Homo sapiens: one gene and its partners. The protein of the gene in region 3 purifies or fractionates together with the protein of the main gene of each other region. This does not show direct contact. Each region holds a gene or a part of one and is shown on either strand. Other genes may lie near its edges.

The links.
Region 1: the proteins of TMCC1 (region 3) and ATE1 purify together in Homo sapiens (co-immunoprecipitation; one large-scale study listed by IntAct). This does not show direct contact.
Region 2: the proteins of TMCC1 (region 3) and SAAL1 purify together in Homo sapiens (co-immunoprecipitation; one large-scale study listed by IntAct). This does not show direct contact.

Annotation. Positions count from the first base shown.
Region 1 is NC_000010.11:121,910,931-121,914,580, forward strand, and holds part of ATE1 (arginyl-tRNA--protein transferase 1), read right to left. Parts: intron 2,964-3,650; coding exon 2,860-2,963; intron 222-2,859; coding exon 1-221. UniProt on the Homo sapiens protein: Involved in the post-translational conjugation of arginine to the N-terminal aspartate or glutamate of a protein. This arginylation is required for degradation of the protein via the ubiquitin pathway. Does not arginylate cysteine residues.
Region 2 is NC_000011.10:18,096,000-18,099,649, forward strand, and holds part of SAAL1 (protein SAAL1), read right to left. Parts: intron 856-3,650; coding exon 772-855; intron 1-771. UniProt on the Homo sapiens protein: Plays a role in promoting the proliferation of synovial fibroblasts in response to pro-inflammatory stimuli.
Region 3 is NC_000003.12:129,891,560-129,895,309, forward strand, and holds the start of TMCC1 (transmembrane and coiled-coil domains protein 1), read right to left. Parts: upstream 2,153-3,750; 5' UTR 1,935-2,152; exon of another isoform or gene 1,623-1,934; intron 1-1,622. UniProt on the Homo sapiens protein: Endoplasmic reticulum membrane protein that promotes endoplasmic reticulum-associated endosome fission.

The DNA of each region.
Region 1 (3,650 bases), on a different chromosome or scaffold from region 3:
AACTGAATGTGACGGTTCACCAGAGCCCAACTTCTCTCCTACGAAATCTTGTGACTGAAGTAATTCCTGAGGTTCTTCTTTCTTTGAATTTTTTCCTTCACTCTCTAAACTCTCTTTGATGTCATCACTGAGTGTTTTAAGATCACACTGTATATCCAGTTTATTTATCAATGCAAAGTCACCCGCAACAGCATCATCCATTGTGGAATCCATGGGCTCATCTACAAATCAGAAGAAATTAAAAATCCATCAGCTGGGTTATTTGATACAGTTAGGTAAATACAGAAATACAATGTTCCTATTATCCATTGTGGCAGAATTACTATCTGTCCACCAAATCCATTCTCATCCTCCAAAATAAGAGAGCTGCACTTAAGACTGGCACAGCTGGGCATGGTGGTTCATGCCTGTAATTCCAGCTCTTTGGGAGGCCAACACAGGAGGACTGCTTGAGGCCAGGAGTTTAAGACCTGCCTGGGCAACATAGTGAGACACTATCTCTACAGTAAATTAAAAAAAAAAAAAAAAAACAAAAACTGTGGCGCCCTAGCAGGGCAATGTACTGCCAGTCCCTTTACAAGTGGTGACCAAGCTCCTGCCAACAGAACATAACACAACTGATACATCCAATTATGCCTCACTAGTTTTAAAGGAAACTTGCGACCCTGAACTTCTACCCTTCCCCACAATGGCTGGATTAGTAAAAACCAGAGCAACCTGGGAAATCACATGTTAAAGAAAAGCCCAGAATGGCTGGTGGGGAGAAGAGTTGAACGCCAACCTAGAACACCCACACTGAACTGTTATGTGAGGAAAGAAACAGACTTTTTTTTTTTTGAGGAGTCTCCCTCTGTCGCCCAGGCTGCAGTGCAGGGGCGCGACCTCGGCTCACTGCAAGCTCCGCCTCCCAAGTTCACGCCATTCTCCTGCCTCAGCCTCCCAAGTAGCTGGGACCACAGGCGCCCACCACCATGCCCAGTTAATTTTTTGCATTTTTAATACAGACGGGATTTCACTGTGTTAGCCGGGATGGTCTCGATCTCCTGACCTCGTGATCCACCTGCCTCGGCCTCCCAAAGTGCTGGGATTACAGGCGTGAACCACCATGCCCGGCCAAGCCCGGCTAATTTTTTGTAATTTTAGAGAAGACAGGGTTTCACCGTGTAAGCCAGGATGGTCTTGATCTCCTGACCTCGTGATCCGCCTGTGTTGGCCTCTCAAAGTGCTGGGACTACAGGTGTGAGCCACCACACCCGGCCCCGAAAGAAACAGACTTTTATCTTTCTTTTAGTTATTGCATTTTGGTATCTTTTTGTCATAGCTGTTTATTCCTTTACTCTAATGAGTACATCACTCCTAGTTCCAGGCACAGATAATTCAGAAGCCTGTAACAAGTCAAATAAACAACCAAATATAAACACTACAAAAGAAAGAGAGGCAGCCAGATGTGGTGGCTCACACCTGTAATCCCAGCACTTTGGGAGGCCAAGGCGGGCAGGTCACAAGGTCAAGAGTTTGAGACCAGCCTGGCCAACACAGTGAAACCCCGTTTCTACTAAAAATACAAAAAAATTAGCCAGATGTGGTGGCGGGTGCCTGTGGTCCCAGCTACTCGGGAGGCGGAGACAACAGAATGCCTTGAACCCGGGAGGTGGAGGTTGCAGTGAGCCAAGATTGAGCCACTGCACTCCAGCCCGGGCGACAGAGCAAGACTCCGTCTCCAAAAATAAAAGAAAGGCAACCACCAATTTACAAATGGACAGCATCTTCAATGCTTATCTCCATGTTCATTTTTCTAACTCAGAACCTAATTCCTTTTTTTTTTTTTGGTGGAGACAGAGTCTTGCTCTGTCACCTAGGCTGGAGTGCAGTGGCAGGATCTTGGCTCACTGCAGCCTTGACCTCCCTGATTCTTGTGCCTCAGCCTCCGAGTAGCTGGGACTACGGGCGTGCACCACGAAGCTCGGCCAATTTTTTGTTGCTCTGTCACCCACGCTGGAGTGCAGTGGCACAATGTCGGCTCACTGCAACCTCTGCCTCCCAGGTTCAAGCGATTCTCCTGCCTCAACCTCCCAAGTAGCTGGGACTACAGGCGCCTGCCACCACGCCAGGCTAATTTTTTGTATTTTTAGTAGAGACAGGGTTTCACCATGTTAACCAGAATGGTCTCCATCTCCTGACCTCATGATCCGCCTGCCTCGGCCTCCCAAGGTGCTGGGATTACAGGCGTGAGCCACTGCCCCCGGCCCCAATATGAAAATTTAAAGAAATAAAACCAAAATTAGTAAAAAGACTAAGAAAAAAAGCAAATCATGTGTAACTAAAGTTAAATAAATGCTATTATGTTTTAGCAAAGCCACTCACAATTCAAAACTGATCACACAAATAAGAGGATTTCAAACAGTATAATTTACTGAAGTAAAGCCTTATTCAAACACAGAAAAGCTGATCTTTATTCAGCATTAAAAGGAATAGGGCAATCTTGTCCAAGCTGCATGTAAGCACTTGCTTCTTGAGAGACAATGGCACTTTCTATTTACTTCATAAGGATAGTATTAGGATCAAGAAAGATGAGTTATCAAAGCATTCTGGAAACAGATATTTTGATAAACTCCAAGAAATCACAAATTTAACATGATCCTCAATATTCTTTCCACGCTAAACTCTTCTGATATATATTCCCATGCCTTGACTTGGGGGCCGATGGTAACAGTAATAGCAGTGCTAACAGTAGTCGCTGTCATCATAGTAGTAGCAGTACATGACTGTATTAATGACCCTTCCCCTTCCCAAGATGACTGAAAGTGGGACCGTTGCAAAGACAGATAGTAAATCGTTTTTAGACCCAGCCCATCTTACCCTCACAACTTCCTTTGGGAACCTCCCCTTTAGCTAGAAATTTCAACATTTTTTTCAAAACCTTCTTGTGAGATTTTGAAGGCTGAAATTGTAAAGGTCGGCACCTAGGAAAGCAAAATAAATATTTAAAAAGTGAACTCAAACCTTGAAGAAATGAAATCAGTTCTGGATATCACCTAGTACAATGAGACCATCTCATGCCTGAGATTTCTGGTTAAAGATGGGGCTTAATGTAGCCTCTAATCCCAGCCCACATCACACTAAGATTATAGTTAAGAGATTTTTTTTTTCTTTTGAGATAGAGTCTCACTCTGTCGCCCAGACTGGAGTACACTGGCACCATCTTGGCTCACTGCAACCTCTGCCACTCAGGTTCAAGTGATTCTCCTGCCTCAGCCTCCTGAGTAGCTGGGATTACAGGCATGCACCACCATGCCCTACTAATTTTTATATTTTCAGTAGAGACAGGGTTTCACCATGTTGGTCAGGCTGGTCTCAAACTCCTGAACTCGTGATCCACCTGCCTCGGCCTCCCAAAATGCTGGGATTACGTGCATGAGCCACCATTCCCAGCAAGAGATTTTTTTTTTTTTTAAAGAGAGAAAGACATAAAACACTAGAAAAAAGAGAAGGACAGAAGTGTTAGAAGCTGGAAAACAGATATACAAAGCAATGCTGTTTTAACAGACCAAAGAAAGTTGAATCCTAGGCCAACAGTGGAAAAAAAAAAAGCCAATTTTCTCTATATTACCCTTAAAAGTCTTAGGGATTGGTGACACCTCATAGCTCTG
Region 2 (3,650 bases), on a different chromosome or scaffold from region 3:
GCTGGAAAGATGAGTTAGGTTCAGAGAGTAGAGGTCTTAAGCAGCAGGCTGAGTTTAGAATGGTTTTCAAGCAATGGTGGATTTTGTCAGTAAAAAAGAGAAATCAACTGAAAAATGGGAGGCCCAGGCTCTGTTCCTTGTTCTGATACATACTAGCAGCATAACAGTGGTTATGCCTAACTCGTCTCCACAGCTGGTAAATGAAAGTGCTAATTTCCCTGGTCCGGCCTGAATCTAAAATTCTATGATTTTCATAATTTTAAATTATTAAATTATTAATAATTTAATATTTTAAATTATTACAGGCATTTAGCTCACGCTTATAATCCCAGCACTTTGGGAGGCCAAGGTGGGAGGATCACTTGAGGCCAGGAGTTCAAGACCAGCCTGGGCAACATAAGGAGACCTTTGTCTCCACAAAATAAAAATAAAAATTAGCTGGGTGTGGTGGCTTACACCTATACTCCCAGTTACTTGGGAGGCTGAGGTGGGAGGGTCCCTTGAGCCCAGGAGGTCAAGACTGCAGTGAGCCGTGATCACGCCACTGCACTCCAAGCCCTGGAGACATAGTGAGACCCTGTCTCAAAAATAAAATAAAATAAATTTAAATAGCAAATTACCTAGGACCTGGCAATGTTCAATTAACATCTACAGGCTGATTTGTTGATTTATGGTCAGTAAGAAAATCAAAGTGAGAAAAATAAAAGACTATCCAGCACTATCTGTTCTTATTGCTTCAAAGAAGAAGGCTTTAGAAATGTACATACTTACTCTTAATCGAGGACACTTGGACTTGGCCAGTACTCCCATGAATATATCAGGAGCATTAAATTCTTGGAGAAATAAAGCCACGTCCTGAAAAGAAAAATGATTATTAACTTGGATGTTGAATATTCCTCCCTAAACCCTAAAGCTCAGGCAACCATAAAATTCTATATTAAAATTAGAATTTTACGCCAGGCGCAGTGGCTGACACCTGTAATCCTAGCACATTGGGAGGCCAAGGCTGGCAGATTGCCTGAGCTCAGGAGTTCAAGACCAGCTGGGCAACACGGTGAAACCCTGTCTCTACTAAAAATACAAAAAAATTAGCCGGGCATGGCGGCATGCACCTGTAGTCCCAGCTACTCAGGAGGCTGAGGCAGGCGAATCGCTAGAACCCGGGAGGCAGAGGTTGCAGTGAGCTGAGATCACGCCACTGCACTCCAGCCTGGGTGACAGAGCGAGACTCTGTCTCCAAAAAAAATAAAAAAATAAAATAAAATTAGAATTTTAGACACAAGAAAAAAAAAACACAGGCTTAGGAACTGTGTCAACAGACAAAAGTGATGTTAGAGAGTCTTTATGGTAACTAGTCCCAGACAATGGAACAATTTCATAAACAAATCTAAACTACCTACAATACTCCAGAGGATTATCCCACTCTTTTCTGCCCGAATCTATTTACCTTAATAATTTTTCTGCCCACTAGGAATTCTCATTAAACACATTCAAACACATTTGGTGATTACCTATCAGGTATTAAACTAGAAGCGGGGGACAAGGGAAAAAAGCAACACGCTGGGCGCAGTGGTTCACACCTGTAATCCTAACACTTTGGGAGGCTGGTTAGAAGGCCGAGGTGGGTGGATTACTTGAGCCCAGCTTGGGCAAACATAGTGAAAACCCATATCCACAAAAAATACGAAAATTAGCCAGGTGTGGTGGCACATGCCTGCAGTCCCAGCTACTTGGGAGGTTGAGGTGGGAGGATCACTTGAGCCTGGGGAGCTCAAGGTTGCAGTGAGCCATGACTTTGCCACTGTACTCCAGCCTGGGCAACACAGCGAGAAAAAAAGGAAAAAAAAAAAAAAGGTAAAACTTGGCTGGGCGAGGTGGCTCACGCCTGTAATCCTAACACTTTGGGAGGCCAGGACAGGCGGATCACTTGAGCCCAGGAGTTCGAGACCAGCCTAGGCAAACATAGTGAAACGCCATCTCTACAAACAATACAAAAATTAGCTGGGCATGGTGGTGTACCATCTGTAGTCCCACCTACTCAGGAGGCTGAGGTGGAAGGATTGCTTGAACCCGTGAGGCAGAGGGTGCAGTGAGCTGAGATCTCGCCACTGCACTCTAGCCTGGGCGACAGAGTGAGACTTTGTCTCAAACAAAAACAAAATTCCTTCTTGTCCTCCAAGAGCTTAAAACACGGTAGGGGAAAGAAGTCAAGAACTGCTATTGGGTCCTGTCCAAAACCAGAATTTGTGTTTTCAAAATCATCAATAGAATAAAAATTCTGATCACAATGTAACTGTGGCAGCCTCATAACTTCTTCCTACAGAGTCTGCCACAGTGCCTAAAGGGGCGTAACACACAGGTGACATGTGAGTGGACATGTGGCCCCAAATGAGCCAAATCTCACCTAGGAATGTAAGACACAAAAGCTAAGTCAGTTTGCTTGGGGACCTGCAATGTAAAATATATAAATAAAATTAAGTCTCTGGCTGTCCACTGCTTCAGATTTTCACTAAATGTGAGGTGTGTATTTGAGAAGCCTTAACTTAAAATATAAGCTGCATGGCTTATGTGAAAATTAAGGGCCCTGGAACATCTCAAAGAGACAGGCAATTATTCTCCACAGCAAGTGAAACCAGTAACCTGCCAGACAACTGACTGAGAGAGACACACTCTACTTACTAAAGGACCATGGTCAGAGAAAATAGTATTTTCAAAGATACACTCTAAACTGAAAGTCATAATGGCAGATTCTCTTCACTGTAAGTGATCAAGCTGTCCTGTGGGCAATTCTTTGCCACATGCAGAAATTTTTAAATTTAATGGTAATTCCTGGAGTAGCACAAGGGTGGCCTAACAATATCAACACCAACAGTAATAAAATTAACATTCATTGAACAAGTATTAAATGCCAGGCACAGTGAAGTGGCTTGCATGCTATCTCATTTAATTCTCAAAACAACTCTATCAACTAGTTATCATTGTTAGCCCCATTACACTCATAAGCAAACTGAAGTTTAAAAAGTGTAGCAACCTGCCCAAGATTATACAGTCTCAGCAGAGCAAAGCTAGGATTTGAACCCATGAGTCTGATTTGAGCCTATGGTCTTGTTTTTTAAAAGAGATGGGGGTCTTGCTATCCTGTCCATACTGGAGCAGTGGCTATTCACAGATTCACAGGCATTATCATAGCTCACTGCAGCCTCCAACTACTGGGCTCAAGTGATCCTCCTGCCTCAGCCTCCCAAATAGCTGGGAATACAGGCAAGTACCCAGCGAGACTATGTTCTTAACCAGCACAACATGCTACCTCTCAGGTATTCATCTATTCATTCATTACTCCCCAAATATTTTCTGAAAAACCTAATAGGCACTGTTTTAGGTTCTGGGGATACATCAGTGAACAAGCTAAATAAGGGCTCAGTCCCATGGAATTTTCATTCTAAAGAAATGAACAAACAATAAATATAAAACAACTAAACTACACAATTTCTAAATGCTACAAAGAAAATAAGATATGTGCTAGAAACCAAGATAAAGCGGGCTACTTTAGACATGACATTGAAAAGAAGGCATTTCAGAAGGGGTGACATTATGCTTTGATGAGAAGGAATTTAAATCCATCAGAGGACACATGTAACAGAGTGAAGCAA
Region 3 (3,750 bases):
GGTCCTTTACCAAAAAAAGCTTACTAACCACTGATTTATATCATTATCTGAAATGATCCTATTTGCTTGTTTGTTGTATATTCCTCATTCCCATACATACAGAATAAAGCTTAATTAGGGAAGAGGCCTTGTCTGTTTTGTCCCAACAATGTAGCCCAGTACTTAGAAAACATCCTGGAACAAAGTAAGGGCTCAATAAACATTTGATGAATTAATGAATGATCCATAAATGCCACTCTGAGGAGCTTAAACCTAAGCCCTGAGCCATTATATGTTCTGCACATTTATGAGAGGCATAAGCAGTCTTGCAGAAAAGGGGAAATATTCTACTATCAAGAAGGCCCAGTTTAAAGTAATGGTGGTTGGTCACCAACTAGTCTAGGGCACTGGGGTTCTTCATCAAATTGTAGACTACAGGTCTTTTGTGCTCATAAAAGAGTCCTTCTGCAAGGTGTCCCAACACTGTCAGCGGTCTGTGCTTCTGTTTATCTTAAGATGCAAATGCTCTGAGAAATCTCATTCTTATACACAGTACACAGCACCTACACCATACCAAATCTTAATCAATGCTCATAATTATAACAGTTCTACATCACATGCTAATGAATTTTTAACGTCTAAAATTTTCCTATGCTGCTGATCAGCAATCTATAAGCAGCTCAAAACTCTTCAGAAATTAAAAGGTTACCACCCACAGACCAGAAGCAGCTTTTTAATCTTTCTACACTAGCCAGAGAGTGGGTGATTGCAAAAAAATACAAGCCAACTCTGTTGGTAGAGGACAGGGTTATTAAGTTAAAATCCCATCTATAAGCATCGTTTTGTCACATGACACTAGTAAAACTACCACCTACTCACAATTTGAGTTTCAATCTCCTAATATACAGAGAAAAAAATGTATCTACCTCCTGGAACAAATCAAAGTTTTGTTTTATTTTAAAGCAGCTATCTGATATTTATGCCCTGGATTTTTTTTTTTTAAGAACAGAATAAGCTAATTTAGGAATTCACACCTTTCGTAGAGATGCTTATGGTACAGGTACCTCTGACGGCTAGGCTCTACCAACACTAACGTGTAACGTGTCACAAAAGCCAACGGGCGTTGCGGGGGCCGGGGGTAGCCAACAGCTCAAGTGGGCTGCTTCACTCCGTGGCAGATTCACCTGGGGATTCCTCACCAAGAATGTTGTTAAGGGACGAACCAAACCAACCACAAATGATACCCCTTTACCGAGGCTGAAAAAGCAGAGATTCGCAAGCTATAAACGAATCTCTGGCCCTTTAGGGAAGGTGCAACTCGCTGCACCTCTTTCCCCTATCCTACAGGGGTTAACAGGGGGCATCCTGAGGCCGAGACCAAGCCCAGCCAGCTCCTCCTCACATCCCACCTCCCACTACATATTCTCCCCAGTACGCCGGGCTCCCTCCTCCCCTCGAAAGACAGTTCAAAATCAAAACAATAGGTGCAAAACTGGTTTCAGGTGGAAATGGCTGAGTCCTGGTGGCTAACTTCTGGGACGCCATGGCGATCGAGGGCTCCTAAAACCCCAGATTCCGACGGGAACCGGCTCCTAAACAGTCCCTCGGGCCTCGGCCCGACTTCTCACACGCCCCTCCCTCACCTCGGCCCTGGGATGCTGGGAAGGGAACGAGGCGAGGGGCTGGAGGGGAACCCCAGGTCAAAATGACAGCGGAATGAGCCGGGAAAGGAAAGAGGCCCCGTGGGATGCTGGGGGTCGAGTCCTAGGCCCGGGGCTTCAACCTCGAACGGGGGCGACGGCAGGTCCCAGCCCCGACAGGCCGCGAGCGGGAGGCCAGGCCCGCGTCCGCTGCGCCGCCAGGCCACGCTCCCTCACGACTGTCCCCACCCACCGCGGAGGGCCGTGAGGGGGCCGCGACCGCCGCCAGCGTCCGGGGCGGGGGCGCTCACTCACCGGCGGGGAGGGGAGGAGCAGCCGGCGTCTCCGCCAGCGCCGTCGCTCGAGCTCAAGCGCCTGCTCCTTCCACTGCGGCCGCCGCACCCGGTCCATCCCCCACAACCACCCCCCCCTCCCGACCCTCCCCCCGCGCCGCCTCAGCCGCCGCCGCCTCAGTCACCGCCACCGCCGCCGCCGCCTCAGCCCCGGCGCGGGAGGGCGAACCGGCGCGAGAGAGCGAGCGCGCGCGCGCCCCCGCCACAGCCGCCACCGCCCACAACCTCCGCCCCCGGCCGGCGGCGCACGCGCAAGGGAGCGGGCGGACGGGCGCGCGCACGCCGCAGGGGCGGGGATGGGCCCTGGAAGGCGTGGCCCCTCCCCTAGCCCGCCTTCCCACGCGGTCTCTGGGCTGGTTGAGCTGCGCCGCTGCAGGTAGTGCTGAGTTGCTCCAGGTAAGCTCCTCCTCTCAAAAAGCTCTAGGAACCGAGCCACCCTCGCCCTAGGAGCAACGCCCCTGAGTAATATGGGGTTTCGTCGGATTTCTGCCCGCCGCTCTGGATCACACGTTTGTTCTCCCTATTTGAGTCGCAAGGCCTTCCTTCATTCCACCTAGCAGGCTGCTTGGAAAAGGGCAGAGACTCATTACTTTGCACCAGGTATTACCACTGAAGGGATTGTAAGCAGCCACCAGCCCATCCCTTTATAATTCCCATTTTCCTAATTTATTTTATTTTTATTACTTATGTAATGAGGCTTCTTCCGTGTTCAAGGAGCTGGGAGTACCATATGGGGTCAACGGAGTCCCTGGTCTCATGAAGTTTGAGATCTGGTGGAGAAGGAAAACATTCATGGGAGAATCAGACAAAATTAAGTTTTCAATTAGTAAAAATCTTCTGAGAGGTATATGGTACTAAGAGAATCTTTATGGGGGAATTGATTTAGTTGAGGATGAAGAGGGTAGAATCTGAGGAATTGAGTTGGGAGGAGTTAGTTGCTCCAAGGGGTGAGGTCTTGGCATGGCCAGAATGGGGAGCGCTAAAGAATATTGAATGTGGAGTAGACTGCGAGTGTGGGAAGAGGTAGGCGAGAACAGGTGAGGATTGGGGACCTATTTATTTATTTATTTATTGAGACAGAGTCTCACTCTGTCACCCAGGTCACCCAGGCTGGAGTGCAATGGCTCGATCTCAGCTCACTGCAACCTCCGCCTCCTGGGTTCAAGCGATTCTCCTGTCTCAGCCTCCGGAGTAGCTGGACTACCAGCGCACGCCAGCGCACCTGGCTAATTTTTGTATTTTTAGTAGAGATGGGGTTTCGCCATCTTGGCCAGGCTGGTCTGGAACTCCTGACCTTGTGATCTGCCCGCCTCGGCCTCCCAAAGTGCTGGGATTGCAGGCATGAGCCACCACACCCGGCCGGATTTGGGACTTTAATCTGAGTGCTTGGTAGAAGCTATTCAGGTTTTTTTCAGCAGGGTTGCAGGGGAAATAACTTGATCATTATGTCTGTTTTTTGTTTTTGAGAGGCAGACTGGAGTGCAGTGGCGCGATCTCGGCTCCCTGCAATCTCTGCCTCCCGGGTTCAAGTGATTTTCCTGCCTCAGCCTCCCTAGTACCTGGGACTACAGGTGCACGCCACTGCACCCAGCTAATTTTTTTAGTATTTTTAGTAGAAACGGGGTTTCACCATGTTGGCCAGGATGGTCTGAATCTCCTGACTTCATGATCCACCCACCTCGGCCTCCCAAAGTGCTGGGATTACAGGTGTGAGCCACCTTGCCCCCAGCCCATTATGTCTGTTTTTAAGTTACTTAGATAGCAACGTGAAGAGTGGT